Linked DNA regions of Homo sapiens. The protein of the gene in region 1 purifies or fractionates together with the protein of each later gene. This does not show direct contact. Each region holds a gene or a part of one and is shown in the gene's direction. Other genes may lie near its edges. The genes, in order: GCK, GMIP, AGL and PPP4R3B.

Evidence for each region.
Region 2: the proteins of GCK (region 1) and GMIP fractionate together in Homo sapiens (co-fractionation; one large-scale study listed by BioGRID). This does not show direct contact.
Region 3: the proteins of GCK (region 1) and AGL fractionate together in Homo sapiens (co-fractionation; one large-scale study listed by BioGRID). This does not show direct contact.
Region 4: the proteins of GCK (region 1) and PPP4R3B fractionate together in Homo sapiens (co-fractionation; one large-scale study listed by BioGRID). This does not show direct contact.

Annotation. Positions count from the first base shown.
Region 1 is NC_000007.14:44,182,925-44,186,489, reverse strand, and holds part of GCK (hexokinase-4), read left to right. Parts: intron 1-2,336; exon of another isoform or gene 2,337-2,506; intron 2,507-3,029; exon of another isoform or gene 3,030-3,188; intron 3,189-3,565. UniProt on the Homo sapiens protein: Catalyzes the phosphorylation of hexose, such as D-glucose, D-fructose and D-mannose, to hexose 6-phosphate (D-glucose 6-phosphate, D-fructose 6-phosphate and D-mannose 6-phosphate, respectively).
Region 2 is NC_000019.10:19,640,820-19,645,144, reverse strand, and holds the start of GMIP (GEM-interacting protein), read left to right. Parts: upstream 1-1,487; 5' UTR 1,488-1,615; coding exon 1,616-1,634; intron 1,635-2,525; coding exon 2,526-2,610; intron 2,611-3,093; coding exon 3,094-3,169; intron 3,170-3,277; coding exon 3,278-3,335; intron 3,336-4,325. UniProt on the Homo sapiens protein: Stimulates, in vitro and in vivo, the GTPase activity of RhoA.
Region 3 is NC_000001.11:99,916,361-99,919,925, forward strand, and holds part of AGL (glycogen debranching enzyme), read left to right. Parts: intron 1-49; coding exon 50-137; intron 138-237; coding exon 238-371; intron 372-3,565. UniProt on the Homo sapiens protein: Multifunctional enzyme acting as 1,4-alpha-D-glucan:1,4-alpha-D-glucan 4-alpha-D-glycosyltransferase and amylo-1,6-glucosidase in glycogen degradation.
Region 4 is NC_000002.12:55,597,081-55,600,645, reverse strand, and holds part of PPP4R3B (serine/threonine-protein phosphatase 4 regulatory subunit 3B), read left to right. Parts: intron 1-1,606; coding exon 1,607-2,230; intron 2,231-3,565. UniProt on the Homo sapiens protein: Regulatory subunit of serine/threonine-protein phosphatase 4 (PP4). May regulate the activity of PPP4C at centrosomal microtubule organizing centers.

The DNA of each region.
Region 1 (3,565 bases):
TGCCAGCATGGTCAGGTTGCAGGGAGGGCTCTCTTCCTGACTTGCAGACCGCCACCTTCTTGCTGTGTCCTCACATCGTGGAGAGAGAGTGAAAACAAGCTCTCTGGTGTCTCTTCTTATAAGAATGCTAATCCTATGATGGGGGCTCCCCCTCCTTACCTCATCTAAACCTAATTATCTCCCAAAGGTCTCATCTCCAGATACCATCACACTGGGGTTAGGGCTTTGACATATGAATCTGGGGGGACACAATTCAATCTGTAACACCAGGAGGGCATGCCGGGAGGAACTGACCTTCCTCCCTCCAGCTGCCCTGGACACCTTTGCCCCATTGAAGGAGCAGGCTCAGAAGTGGAATGAGGATGGAATAAGGTGCACTCCATCATGCTTACCCACATCCCTGGCAGGAATTGTCCTGGGCCCCAGCAGGAGAGATGCCCCCCCATACTGCCATGGCACCTGCTCTGAGACAGGTGTGCAGAGTGCAAAGCTCCAGGTGGCCCCCAAGCAGGTGTGCTGGGAGGAGGGGCCCGTGTGGGAGGAGCAGGCAGCGCCAAGGCCTAGCGGAGCAGTGACAGGTCCCTGACTTCAGGGAATGGGCACGCTGTGGGCAGGCAGCTGGTGTGGGGGTGAGGGCTGGGGCTGCATCTGTGGGACCAGGGCTGGGCCATCCATCATATGCCGTGTCACAACCCCAGTGCCCCTGCTGTAGCCAGGACAGGAGGCTGGGCCAGGCTGGGAGGTGACAAGAGTGGGGGCTGTCCCCAGGAGAAGCACTCTGCTGCCTGTGCCCAGGCCTCTGGGGATGAGGACCCCTCAGAAGGAGTAGCTATGTCTAGGAAGCCCCAGGGCAGGAGCAAGCCAAAGGGGACATCATTAGTGAGATCCAGGGGATCAGTGGGCCACAGAAGCCCCAGCGTGAGCCCCTCTGACTGATGCAGCTAGGCCCACACCTGCACCTGCCCACAGCAAGACCCCCAGGAGGAGAGGGGACAGATGGAGAGAGGCACAAAGTGCCCCTGGCCTCTGCCTTGAAGCCACCCCAAGGCAAGAGAGATTTGAGCCCCTGTTTAGTGACCTCCAGGGGAACATTCTGGCCCATCTGATGTGGGAAGCCCCTTGTGGAGTCTGTCATTCCTCAGCTGAGCCAGGCCTTTGGAGGCAGCCCAGGCATGTCCCCTGTGTGCTCCTATCCCTGTGTTGGGACACCTGGCCCAGCCCCTCCTTCTGCCTTTCTCTTCCCTTCCCTTCTCAGGAGTGGACACTTCCTCCTTTAGCCCCCTCACAGCTGTGTGAACTTCTCTGTATCTCTCTCTTTCTGTCTCTTTCTCCCCCTCTCTCTCTGTCTCATTGTCTCTCTGTGTGTCTGTCTGTAGTATTCTCTCTCTGTCTCTGTCACTCTGTCTCTCTCTCTCTCTGTGTCTACCTTTCTGTATTTCGCTTTGTTTCTTTTTCTCTGTGTGTGTGTGTGTGTATCTGTTTTTCTCACTCTCTCTCTGTGTCTATCTTTCTGTATTTCGCTTTGTTTCTTTTTCTGTGTGTGTGTGTGTGTATATCTGTTTTTCTCACTCTCTCAATCTCTCTCTCTCTTTCTGTCTCTCTTTTGCTGGCCTGAGCAAAGAGGGAGCCCCATCCTGATGCTACATAACCGTGAACCAGCACAGACAGAATTGTAGGAAAGTCCTGCAAGTAGAAGGATAGAAGGATGAGGGAAGAAACGCCATGTGAGTCATGACAGATCCCTTTCCAGGAGCCACTGACTCACCCTGCCTCCTGCCCTCCCACTGTGACACTATTACTCACAGACAGGCCCGGATTAAACCTATGTTCCAGGTGCCCTGTGGTTCCCACAGTGTGGCTCCCTGGGTCTGGCCTCAGGCTCCACAGGTGCCCAGCCCTGCCAAAGTCTCCAGAGCAGCTGTCCAGCTGGGGAGCTGCGGGGCCCCTTCACAGAGCGCATGGGAAGAAGTTCCATCCTACACATTACATCGAGAGGGACGTGCCTGAGAAGGGGAGCTGGAGCCCGTGCAGCCCCCTGCTTGCGTGCAGAACATAGTGTACCCTGAGCATGCCATGAAAAACACAAACGCACAAAGTTGTAAAGAAAAAAGAAATGACAGGTGGCTGTAAAATCAGTTATAGCCCACGAGAGGCCCACTAATGAGTGGTGATTTCAGCTGATTACAAAGAAATGATGGTGTTTCTGTAATGAACTAAACATGCACTCGTGCGTGCACACACGCGCACGTATAGTCACATAACTGACCAGCCCTATGCATCACTTGTTAATTACTTAGTAACTGTAACAATAATAGTTTCCAATAAGTGAGCCTTAGTCTCTGCGCAAGGGTCAGTTTATTGAGCACACGGGGGCCTTGCAGTGGGGGCAGGTGATCTGCTCCTGGGAGCCGCCAGCCTCTCCTCTCCTGCTCTTCATCTTCCTCCGTGGTGGGAAATTGTCTCACTGCTTCTACACCTGAGGCTGAACATCTCCCTTTATTTCAGTCTGAAACACATGTAAAAATATACTGGAATGAATTAAGGTTGCAATTATTGATATCAGGCAGTGAGTACATCAGGGTTTATTATACTATCTCCTTTACTTACTTCGAAGTTCTCTATTACCAAAAAATTAAAAACTATAAAAGAAAGAAAAAGGAAATGAGGCTAGATTCAACACAGATTACTCTTACCAAACCCTTCGTAGTCCCAGGAGTCCCCTAACACAAGCACTTGTGACCTGGAGTGATATTCACAGCATTCCTTACCTGGCAATACCTGAGTATTAGCCCCCCCAGTGGGATCTTTGTTGTAGACAACCAGCAACTATCAGCCCAGCCAATAAACAAGTAGGAAAGGGGAGTGCTGGAGAGGCCAAGAAGTGGGATTTTCCATGCTCCTGGGCTGTGATCCAGAGGGCACGGCTGTGAGGCTGATCTCAATGAACACTCTGTCTTGGAAGTACAGGGATCCTCTGCTACCTGAAAACGTTCTGAGTATTCACTTTCATGGATTGCAAAGTCATTTACCCAAAATTCACTCTCCAAATGAAAAGTGAGTATGATGAATCAGTATTCAAGTTCCACCTGGGTCCTGGGAGAGGGCATGGACATCATATCCCAGCTGTTCCGACAGGAGGACCCAATCTGAGTCTCACTGCCTGCCTGCATCGTTTGTCTGCTGCCAGCCTGCACAGTAGGAAGGGAAAACATGATTTGTATCTGTTTTAGGTCAGGTTCCCAAGAAGTAGAGCCTGAGATTGGAATTCTTGGAAAATGGTGTTTGCGGGAGCGCTGTCAGCAGAAGCTATAAGGAAGTTGGGGGGACAGAAAACGAGAGGTAAGAAGCCAGTCAAAAAGGCAGGTCCAGCTTAAGTCCGCCTCAGTCTGGTTCCACAAGGGCTCTGATGCATGAAGAATATCACAGGGTTGTCCCTCCTGGGAGAGGGGCCAGCCTATTGTACCTGTATCAAAGCCACCAGCTGAGGGCCAGTGGGGAGGGAAGATCTTCCAGGCATTTCCAGGAAACTCTCAGGAGAAGGGTGTAGCTGTGAGCAGTCTGCAGC
Region 2 (4,325 bases), on another chromosome or scaffold:
AGAGGGTCACTGAGGAAGGTCCCAGCACCCTCCCCACAGGCGTGTGATGTTGGTGAAACCCTCTGGCACTTTCAGCACTTGAACATGGACTTGTCCCTGCCCAGAGAATTCAGTGCATATTTTCTAGTTTAACAAGCACCCCCATATTTCTGAGGTCTCTTTCACATTTTAACAACTCAGGTGCTGAGAGAAGCCTTAGGATGTGTGATATTTTTTTCTTTCCCATAATACATAACAGCATGCCTTTCTCTCGGGTGGTGTCTGAGACTTGAGGAATATGATCTGCATCATTACAAGTATTGACTCTGTCCGGTGGCTCAAGCCTGTAATCCCAGCACTTTGGGAGGCCAAGGCGGGCCCATCACAAGGTCAGGAGATCGAGACCATCCTGGCTAACACAGTGAAACCCCATCTCTACTAAAAATACAAAAAATTAGCCAGGCATGGTGGCGAGTGCCTGTAGTCCCAGTTACTCGGGAGGCTGAGGCAGGAGAATGGCGTGAACCCAGGAGGTGGAGCTTGCAGTGAGCCGAGATAACGCCACTGCACTCCAGCCTGGGCAACAGAGCGAGACTCCAACTCAAAAGAAAAACAAACAAGTACTGACTCTGTCATGCTCTTTGGGGGCCTGCGCTGCTCTACCATCTCATGTCACAGTCAGGGAGCTCTGGCTGAGCATCAGCCAGGATGTGACCTGGAAACCTGGCTTGGCTCTTAGGTTGATAGTGTTATTCCTTTCAATGGACTCACTCATCACAACTCAAGAACTGCAGAGTAGGCAGCACGGAGCCAGTCAGAGAATCCTTGCCTCCTTAACAGCCAAAGCCTTTGGACACAAAGTTATAAACATACTTTAAAGTCTATTTCCAGCCCCAAAATTCCACTGTGCTGGGGGTGGGAGCATTTTTATAACAGGCGGCTTGTGGCAACCCCAGAGCTGGTGCTTTTGGACAAACCTCCACTCCCTACCTAAAAGGGCTGCTCCCTGGTGTGCTGTAATTGGGGCCTTGAGCCTGATCCAGCTTTGAGGGTCACGGAAGGGGCGTCCCCCAGGCCAGGGGTTCTCCAGCCCGAGTATTAGAATTTTGGTTGGAATCGGACAGAATATCAGGCCTCCACCAGGGGGCGCCATGGCTCCAGCGAGGCCCAGGTGGTTTCAGGGCTCCGAGAGACAACCTGGGCAAGGGGATCACCAGGGTCGCGGGTTGTGGGAGCTCCTGGGAGAGGCCCCCCGGGACAGGTGGACTCTGCAACCATTCAGGGAGGAGGGGGCTGGGGCTCCGTGGGATTTGGGGTAGCACAAAGATCTGAGAGGGAACCTATGGCCCAGATGAAGTCTTAGGATGCCCAGGTCAGGGGCACTGCAGCCTCGAGTGGTCGCTCAGGGGGCCCTGGCCCGACCCAGTTTCAAGCGGCTCAGGTAGAGAAGGGCACTATCAAGGCTTCCGGGCTACGGGGGCGTGGTCTGATGCGGGGGCGTGGCCTCCGCTGGGCAGGGCGACGCGGAACCGAGGCGGCGGCGGCGGCTGCGGCGGCAGGAAATCGGGGCTCGGCCCCGCCGGCGCGCGACCCCATCCCCATCCCGGTCCCTGCAGAGCGATCCCCGGGCCCAGATATGGACGCAGCAGAGCCGGGTAGGGGGTCGGGGATCCGGGAGGGGCCTCCCCCGACCATCCCCTGCTTCCTACATTGAGGGCACACACTTGTCCCGCTCCGTCCTGAGAGCCAGGAGAGGAGTTCCTGAATGGGAAGGACCCAGGGATCCTCCATTGTGGGGAGCCCTGTGCCCGGATGGGTTCAGGACCCCAGCCCTTCACTCCCCCTCCCCCTTTTGATCCCTCACCCCAGACGCCTGGGGGAGGGGGCCCAGGAAGGGGAAGTGACTGCTTCTGCTTCTGATTTTTGTGATGGGGGCAGGGTGCCACGACTGCTGAGGGAGAGGGCAACGCGGTAGGATCCCCACAGGGCCCCTCTGTAGCCCTGGGGAGTCGGCAGTGCTGGTCTAGGCCCCTTAGGAGAGGGGGCAGGGGGGCAGCAGTAGAAATGTGGCGGGGTCCGACTTGGTGTTTCCGGCCGTCTTTGTGTCTGTGTTGTGTATGTGGAGTGTCATTCGGTCTTTATGTCCCTCACGGCTTCAGTCTCTCCATGTGTGTTTCTGCCCCAGGCTCTGCCTGGCTGTCCCTTGTGTATTTCCATCTGTCTAGCCCGTGGTTCCATTGTCAGACCGGCTTTCTTCTCGGGACAGCCTGGTTGCATCTGGGGCATCTGTTTTGTTGGTTTGCTTCTGGGTGCAGGCAGACCCAGGGAGTGGGTGTCTCTGTTCCCCGAGCAGCTGTCTCTGGTCTCTGGTGGTGTGTGAGTCCATCTGCCTGCCTCGAGTTGGCCCCAACCAAGCCCCCCCCAGCCCTCTCTTTCTCTCTCTCACTCTTCCCTTTCTCTTCCACCCCCTCCAAATGAGACTGGTTGAGGTGCCGTGGGTGGAGGGAGGCAGTGGTTAGCCCATGTATTACACTCCCCTCCCCTAGGACTCCCCCCAGGTCCTGAGGGCAGGAAGAGGTACAGTGACATCTTCCGGAGCCTGGACAACCTCGAAATCTCACTGGGGAACGTGTGAGTCTGAGCCTGGATCACCCCCAAATCCTGCCAAGATGCCCCAAGCCCCTAACCATTTAGGTGCCTTGCAGTCCCATTTGGAACCTGTAACATCTGGACCTACATACCTAATAACCAGAGAAGTCTAGGATGGGACCCTCCAAAATGCCTCGGTATCCTAAAAGTGTCCCCCTAAATAGACTGGAAATCCCCAAAGTGGTCCTAGAACCCCTACATATCCTTGTAACCCCTTAAAATATTTGCGATCCCTATAATCCCACTCTATGAACCTCAAAGTTATCTGGGGCCCTTCAGATGCTTTTTCAAGTCCTATTTAAAAAAAACTCACCTGATTCCCCCAAAACACCATTCTTCAGACCTCCCAGACACAAGAGATGCCACAGAGGTGATGTTTGCCACAAACAACCCTAAGGTCCCCAGCACCCCTTGGCAGGACAGACTGGGTGTAAGGTGGCATCCTGACACACCTTTATCCCCCAGGACCCTTGAGATGCTGGCTGGAGACCCTCTACTCTCAGAAGACCCAGAACCTGACAAGACCCCTACAGCCACTGTTGTGAGTGGGGAGTAGGGGAACAGGGAGGAAGACCTCAAGCAGAGGGGGCCTTAGGAAGGCCAGGCCCCTGCCCTGTTTGCTTCTGAATACTGTCTCCCTCCCGCACAGACCAACGAAGCCAGCTGTTGGAGCGGCCCCTCCCCAGAGGGTCCTGTACCCCTCACAGGTAGGGGGGTCTGGAGGCCAGGACAGTGGGGACAGACAGGAGTCTTTCCTTCAACAAATCACCACTGATCCCCTGTTCCATGCAAGGCATCGTTTAGGTTTTGGGAATATGGCAGTACACACAACAGATCTCAGTCCCAGCCCTCAGGGAGACCCCAGGCAGGGTGGAGGCTGAGGTAGGAGGATCACTTGAAGCCAGGAATTCGTGACCATGCTGGGCAACAGTAAGACACCATCCCTACCAAAAGAAAAAATATTTTTTTAATTAGCTGGGTGTGGTGGTGTGTGCCTGTAGTCCCAGCTACTTTGGAAGCTGAGGCTGGAGGACTGATTAAGCCCAGGACTTTGAGGCTGCAGTGAGATACGATTGTGCCACTGCACTCCAGCCTGGATGACAGAGCAAGACCATGTCCAAAAAAATCAAACACAAGGCCGGACGCAGTGGCTCACGCCTGTAATCCCAGCACTTTGGAGGCTGAGGCGGGTGGACCACGAGGTCAGGAGATCGAGACCATCCTGGCTAACATGGTGAAACCCCATCTCTACTAAAAATACAAAAAAATTTAGCCGGGCGCAGTGGCGAGTGCCTGTAGTCCCAGATACTCGGGAGGCTGAGGCAGGAGAATGGCGGGAACCCAGGAGGCGGAGCTTGCAGTGAGGCAAAATAGGGCCATTGCACTCCAGCCTGAGCGACAGAGCGAGACTCCGCCTCAAAAATAAAAATAAAAAAACCCATCAAACACAGGCCGGGCACGGTGGCTCATGCCTGTAATCCCAGCACTTTGGGAGGCCGAGGCGGGCAGATCACCTGAGATTGGGAGTTCGAGACCAGCCTGACCAACATAGAGAAACCTCGTCTCTACTAAAAATACAAAAAATTAGCCGGGCATGGTGGCGCATGCCTGTAATCCCAGCTACTCAGGAGGCTGAGGCAGGAGAATCGCTTGAACCCGGGAGGCAGAGGTTTTGGTGAGCCAAAATCGCGCCATTG
Region 3 (3,565 bases), on another chromosome or scaffold:
ATAATATCTGATCATCTTTTATTTAACTTAAATTTCAATCATTTTGCAGTGATATGGTTTACTGTGGAATTTATGACAATGCATTAGACAATGACAACTACAATCTTGCTAAAGGTTTCAATTATCACCAAGGACCTGTAAGAATTTCATTTATCTTCTGAGTTTCAGTTTAAATTATTTTTCAAGTAATTTTTAGGTATTTATGGTTTTTTTTGTCTTTTAAATAATCTTTTTTAGGAGTGGCTGTGGCCTATTGGGTATTTTCTTCGTGCAAAATTATATTTTTCCAGATTGATGGGCCCGGAGACTACTGCAAAGACTATAGTTTTGGTTAAAAATGTTCTTTCCCGACATTATGTTCATCTTGAGAGGTAAGTCATCAGGAGCATGTAATTTCCATAACTAGTGTTTAGTCAGTTTATTAGCTATTAGGTAAATTACAGTTTCTTAGAATTGATTTCTGTATGCCCTAGGTATCCCAATGAAAAGTGAAGCCTTTATTCTTTAACATGACAAATTCTGTTATATAATTTTCACTTTCTCTTATTTTGGGTTGTTATTTATTTTAAGTTGAGGTCTTGATATTGTGCGATTTATACATGTGGAATAGTCTTTGATTTTTAAAATTTCCCTGATGTTTTTGGATGTGGTTAGCACAGGATAAATATAAAAACTGAAGGTACTCAGCCTGGGCCTTTTGAGTTAATTGATTTAAAGATATATCAAGAAATAGTTTTCAGAAATGCTTTCATTATAGTTAAAATATCAGAACTGGTCTTTTGCCTGTTAGTTCAAAAAACATTTTTCACTTCCTTGTCCTAATTATTAGCAAATAGACAGTGTCAGAGTTACGTATCTTTATAAGAGTATAAATTCAGAGTGTATCTTAATTCCTCAAATTTTAGATTATACCTAAGTATATCTATATTCTATTCCTCAGATAATGAATAAACAGCACAAATTTTATCTCCTTTCTTACAAGCACATAAGGGACTTCTGCGTGTTTCATATTAATAGAGCCACTCCTGGTCTGTTTTGTTTGGTTGTCACCATGGTACAGATTTTACCATCCTTTTAAGCTATTTATGTCTTTGTATTTAAAGTGGCTTTCTTGTACATAGTAGCATGTAATCGGGCCTTGCTCTCGTGTAGCACAACAGTTTCTGCTTTTGGAATATTTAGACCATTTACACTTAAGGTCTGAAATTGTGAAATTTAAATGTTTGTTGTCTGTTTATTCTGTCTGTTCTTTGTTAGCTTTTTCCTCTTTTTGTGCTTCTTTTGCATTGAATATTTATTATTTCATTTTAATCTCCTTTGTTGGCTAATTAGATGTAATTCTTGTTTATTTAAAATGGCTGCTTTAGGTTTATAGTATATGTCTTTATAGTTTACCTTCCAGTGATATACCACTTCAAGTAAGGTATAAAGATCCTTAAAATAGTATAGTTTTATTTTTCCCCTCCCGGCCTGTGTGCTATCATCATCATCCATTTTGCTTTTACCTGTTATTACCCCCCACACTACATGGTTACTACATTTGTTTAGGCAGTCAGTTATGTTTTAATGATCTTTAAATAATATATTAAAAAGTCTAATTACTCTTATAGTTGCCATTTTCAGTGCTCTTCATATGTTTGTGATGTTCTGTATCTCCATCTTGTATCATTTTCCTTCTACCCGAAGGACTTTCTCCATCATGTCTTGTAGTGTTTGCCTCCTCATGATGAATTCTTTCAATTCTTATAAGTGTAAAACATCTGTGTTTTGCCTTTATTTTAAAGATATTTTCACTATGTATAGAATTCAAAGTTAAGCTTTTTTCTCTTTCATACTTTAAGGTGGTTACATTGTTTTGATAAGAAATCTGCATCATTTTTATGTCTAACCTACCATCACATCCATGCTGGTGTTTTTCATTTCAACGTTGTAGTTTTCATTTCTCAAAGTTTTATCTGGGCTGTTTTTATATCTTCCATGTCTCTGCTTAATGTTTTGAACATGTGGAATATGATTACAGTGACTCTTTTAATATCCTTGTCTGCTAATTCATTTCTGGGTTGCTTTTGCTTGTGATTGTTCTCTTTATTTTGGGTCATATCACCCTGCTTCTTTGCTTGGTAGTTTTTGTTTTTTGATTTTTGGAGCGACAGGGGTCTTGCTATCTTGCCCAGGCTGGTCTCGAACTCCTAGGCTCAAGCAGTCCCCCAACCTCGGCCTCCTGAAGTGCTGAGATTACAGGCATGAGCCACCACACCCAGCCATTTGCCTGGTTATTTTTTATTAGATACCAGATGTGAATTTTACCTTGTTGGGTGCTAGATTTTTGGTGTTTCTGTAAATGTTTTTGAGCTTTGTTTTGGAATGCAGTGAAATTACTTGGAAACAGTTTGATCCTTTCTGGTCTTGATTTTAAGCTTGTTAGACCTGACCAGAATAGCATTTGGTCTAGGAATAATTATTCTCCATTAGTGAATCAAGACCCATCTGTGTTCCCTACCCTGTATTTCGAAAATTATGACGTTTTCAAATCTGGCTGGTGGGAACAAGCAAGTGTTCCTGACGCTGTATGAGTGCCACATACTGCTTCTTCTCATCCTTTTGGATGGTTCTTTCCTTGTTCTTTGGTAGTTTCCTCTTGTGAATTTGCTGGTTGGTACACTACAGATACTTGAGTGGGACCCTCTGCATATCTTCAGAGTTCTCTCTTTGTACAGCTCCTTCCTCTCTAGTACTCTATCCTGCAAATTGTAGCTGCTTTGTAGTGTTCCTGGATTCTCAGTTCAACTCAAGGAAGTCTGCCAGGCTCCACCTGTGTTCCCCCTCTCTGTGCCAAATCCTGGAAACTCTCAAGGCAGTAAGGTATGGTAATCATAGGGTTTGCTTCATTTGTTTCTCATCCTTCAAGGATCGCTATTTGTTGCCTAATGTCTAATGTCTTAATGTCCAGTTCTTCAGTTGTATCAGACAGGAGGGAAATTCTGTCCATACTACTTCCTGTTTGTCACATATGGAAGTCCTTCCTTGCTTTCTGGCCCAGCAAGGTTTTCAACACTCATCTTTCACTTTCACTACCCCAGCCTGGAATTGGGCAATTCTCTAAGGATCCCTTGTTCTTTATAGTGAAAAATGTTATTTAGAAGCCAGATCTGAGCACATGGTGTATTTATTATTACTATGACCCCCAGTAGATAGGGCTAGGGAATATATAATAATACATAAACATAAGTAAATACATACACACTTATCTTCATCTCAATGTATCCTGTCTATGTGTGTTGAAAACCTGAGTTTACACCAGTTCCAAGCTATTTCTCAGTGTTTAATTCTATTTTTCTCCCTTTCTATATTTGTAATTCCCTTTTCCAACAATGAATAACCTACTTCCCACATTGGGCCATCACCACCACATAGAGTCTGCTCACCCAGCTTGGGCCTGCTACCCCACAGTAAGCCACCTCTATGTGTGGAGCCCTCCTGGCACCACTTGGATTCTAACTACCCACTCTGGACCACTCTCACCCTTGGTGGACTCCCTCTTCATACCTCTTGGACTCTAACATCC
Region 4 (3,565 bases), on another chromosome or scaffold:
TAAAATCTGTGCATGTTGCTGAATATGTATTTAGTTTTTTGCTCCTAACTACTGCATGATATTTCACAAAATCATATCTCATGTTTTACTTTTTCAGTTCTGGGAAGTCATTACTGATCTTTGAAAGGACAATTTCAATTTCAGTAAGCGCCATATTACTTAATTATTTCTTAACCACCCCTGCCCGCCTTTTTTTTTTTTTTTTTTTTTTTTTTTTTTGAGACAGAGTTTCACTCTCGTTGCCCAGGCAAGAGTGCAGTGGTGTGATCTCGGCTCACTGCAACCTCCGCCTCCCAGGTTCAAGCAGTTCTGCTGCCTCAGCCTCTCGAGTAGCTGGGACTACAGGCATGCGCCACCACGCCCAGCTAATTTTGTGCTTTTAGTAGAGACAGGGTTTCTCCATGTTGGTCAGGCTGGTCTTGAACTCCTGACCTCAGGTGATCCGCCCAACTTGGCCTCCCAAAGTGCTGGCATTACAGGCGTGAGCCGCCACCCCTTATAATGAGAAAATAGAACAAAAAAGCTTCCCTGAAAAAGTTTGATGGTTCAGATAGTTCAGAGTGTCTTAAGGGGATTGGAGAATGATGAAATAGAAGGAACCATTGGAGAGAAATAAATTATAAAAACAAGAGCAAAGATAATTTTTATATGTTTAGCTTTGAGAAAGCATAAGTTTAGAAGTACATATGGAAATGTTAACCTTAGGAAATGGTATAGACATTTCCTTTGAAATGAATGAAGGAAATGTGTGAAGGTAAGTTGTGAGATGGAGAAATGTTAGAGGAAGTTGAGTACTGATGGGCTTTTTATTCAAAGGAAGCCTCTTATCTTCTGAGACTTAAAGGTGAAGGTAATGTTTGAGAAGTTGGAAAGTGAAAAAATATTTAAAGCAGCAGCTGTAAGGGATGACGATAGGATTATAGACTAGAGAATTTTTATTGAAAAACCCTATTGATAGTGTGGATTTATTGTGAATCCATACAGCAGAGTTCATTGGCTGTCTCTGAGACGTTATGATCAGATTGTGTTGTAGTAATACAATCCTAAAATTTCAATGGCTTGTCACAACAAAAGTTGATTTCTCCTTAATGCTGTTTGACCAATAGGGGAAGGGGCCCTACTCATGAGAGTCATTCAGGGACCAAGCTGGAAGAGAATTCATTTTATTTTATTTATTTATTTTATTTTAATTTTTTATTTTATTTTTTGAGACAGAGTCTTGCTTTGTCTTCCAGGCTGGAGTGCAGTGGTGCGATCTCAGCTCACTGCAACCTCCACCTTCCAGGTTCAAGCGATTCTCCTGCCTCAGCCACCTGAGTAGCTGAGATTACAGGCGTATGCCACCACACCTGGCTGATTTTTGTATTTTTAGTGGAGTTGGGGTTTCACCATGTTGCCCAGGCTGGTTTTGAACTCCTGACCTCAAGAGACCTGCCTGCCTCAGCCACCTAAAGTGCTGGGATTACAGGCGTGAGCCACCGTGCCTGGCCTAGACTTCACTTTTAATTAGTAGTGACTAGCCAGGCATTTCCAAATGATTTGATTTCCAAAATTTTGAATTATTTTGTATTTTAAGGTAATTAGCTGTATACTTGGATATTTTTAGGTTCAAGGTAAAGACCCATCAGTGGAAGTCACACAGGACCTCATTGATGAATCTGAAGAAGAACGATTTGAAGAAATGCCTGAAACTAGTCATCTGATTGACCTGCCCACATGTGAACTCAATAAACTTGAAGAGATTGCTGACTTAGTTACCTCAGTGCTCTCCTCACCTATCCGTAGGGAAAAGCTGGCTCTCGCCTTGGAAAATGAAGGCTATATTAAAAAACTATTGCAGCTGTTCCAAGCTTGCGAGAACCTAGAAAACACTGAAGGCTTACACCATTTGTATGAAATTATTAGAGGAATCTTATTCCTAAATAAGGCAACTCTTTTTGAGGTAATGTTTTCTGATGAGTGTATCATGGATGTCGTGGGATGCCTTGAATATGACCCTGCTTTGGCTCAGCCAAAAAGACATAGAGAATTCTTGACCAAAACTGCAAAGTTCAAGGAAGTTATACCAATAACAGACTCTGAACTAAGGCAAAAAATACATCAGACTTACAGGGTACAGTACATTCAGGACATCATTTTGCCCACACCATCTGTTTTTGAAGAGAATTTTCTTTCTACTCTTACGTCTTTTATTTTCTTCAACAAAGTTGAGATAGTCAGCATGTTGCAGGTAAGTAAAAAGATACTCTTCACGATTCCATTTTTCAGATATTTAGTTCCCTTAATAGTTCAAGCAGGTGTTTATACCCTCTATTTTTTGAAAGATTTATTTTGTTTAAATGTACTATTAAGTACATTTAAAGTAAACAAAAGAAATTGGGACTTTATGTCTTGTGGTTTTAGTGCAACCTTTTATTTATTTTTTTGAGTCGGAGTCTCGTTCTGTCGCCCAGGCTGGAATGCAGTGGCGCAATCTCAGCTCACTGCAACCTACGCTTCCCGGGTTCAAGCAATTCTTCTTCCTCAGCCTCCCGATTAGCTGAGACTACAGGTGTGCACTGCCATGCCCAGCTGATTTTTTTGTATTTTTAGTAGGGAAGGGGTTTCACTGTGTTGCCCAGACTGGTGTTGAACTCCTGAGCTCAGGCAGTCCGCCCGCCTCAGCCTCCCAAAGTGCTGGGATTATAGGCGTGAGCCACCGCGCCCAGCCCAGCCTTTTATATTTTTAAGTAGCCTGTGTTTTAGCTTTTTATACAATTTAGTATTTGTGTTTCTAAAATTGAGGTAGAATATACATAACATAAAATTCACCGTTTTGACTATTTATTTATTTATTTATTTTTTGAGATGGAGTTTTGCTCTTGTTGCCCAAGCTGGAGTGCAATGGCATGATCTCAGCTCGCCGCAACCTCTGCCTCCTGGGTTCAAGTGATTCTCCTGTCTCAGCCTCCTGAGTAGCTGGGATTACAGGCATGTGCCTCCACGCCGAGCTAGTTTTGTTTGTTTGTTTGTTTGTTTGTTTTTGAGACGGAGTCTTGCTCGGTCGCCCAGGCTGAAGTGCAGTGGCGCAATCTTGGCTCACTGCAAGCTCCGCCTCCCGGGTTCACGCCATTCTCCTGCCTCAGCCTCCCGGGTAGCTGGGACTACAGGCGCCCGCCATCACGCCCAGCTAATTTTTTGTGTTTTTAGTAGAGACAAGGTTTCACCATTTTAGCCAGGATGGTCTCGATCTCCTGACCTTGTGATCCACCCACCTCAGCCTCCCAAAGTGCTGGGATTACAGGCGTGAGCCACCCCGCCCAGCCCAATTTTTTGTATTTTTAGTAGAGGGGGGTTTCTCCATGTTGGTCAGGCTGGTCTCGAACTCCCAACCTGAGGTGATCCACCTGCCCCGGCCTCCCAAAGTGCTTGGATTACAGGCATGAGTCACTGTGCCCGGCCAGTTTCAACAATTTTTAAGTGTACAATTCATTGGCATTAAGTATATTTGCAGTGTTATGCAGCAGTTACCACTATCCATTTCCAGAACTTTTTCATCATCCCAAACAGAAACTCTGAACCCATT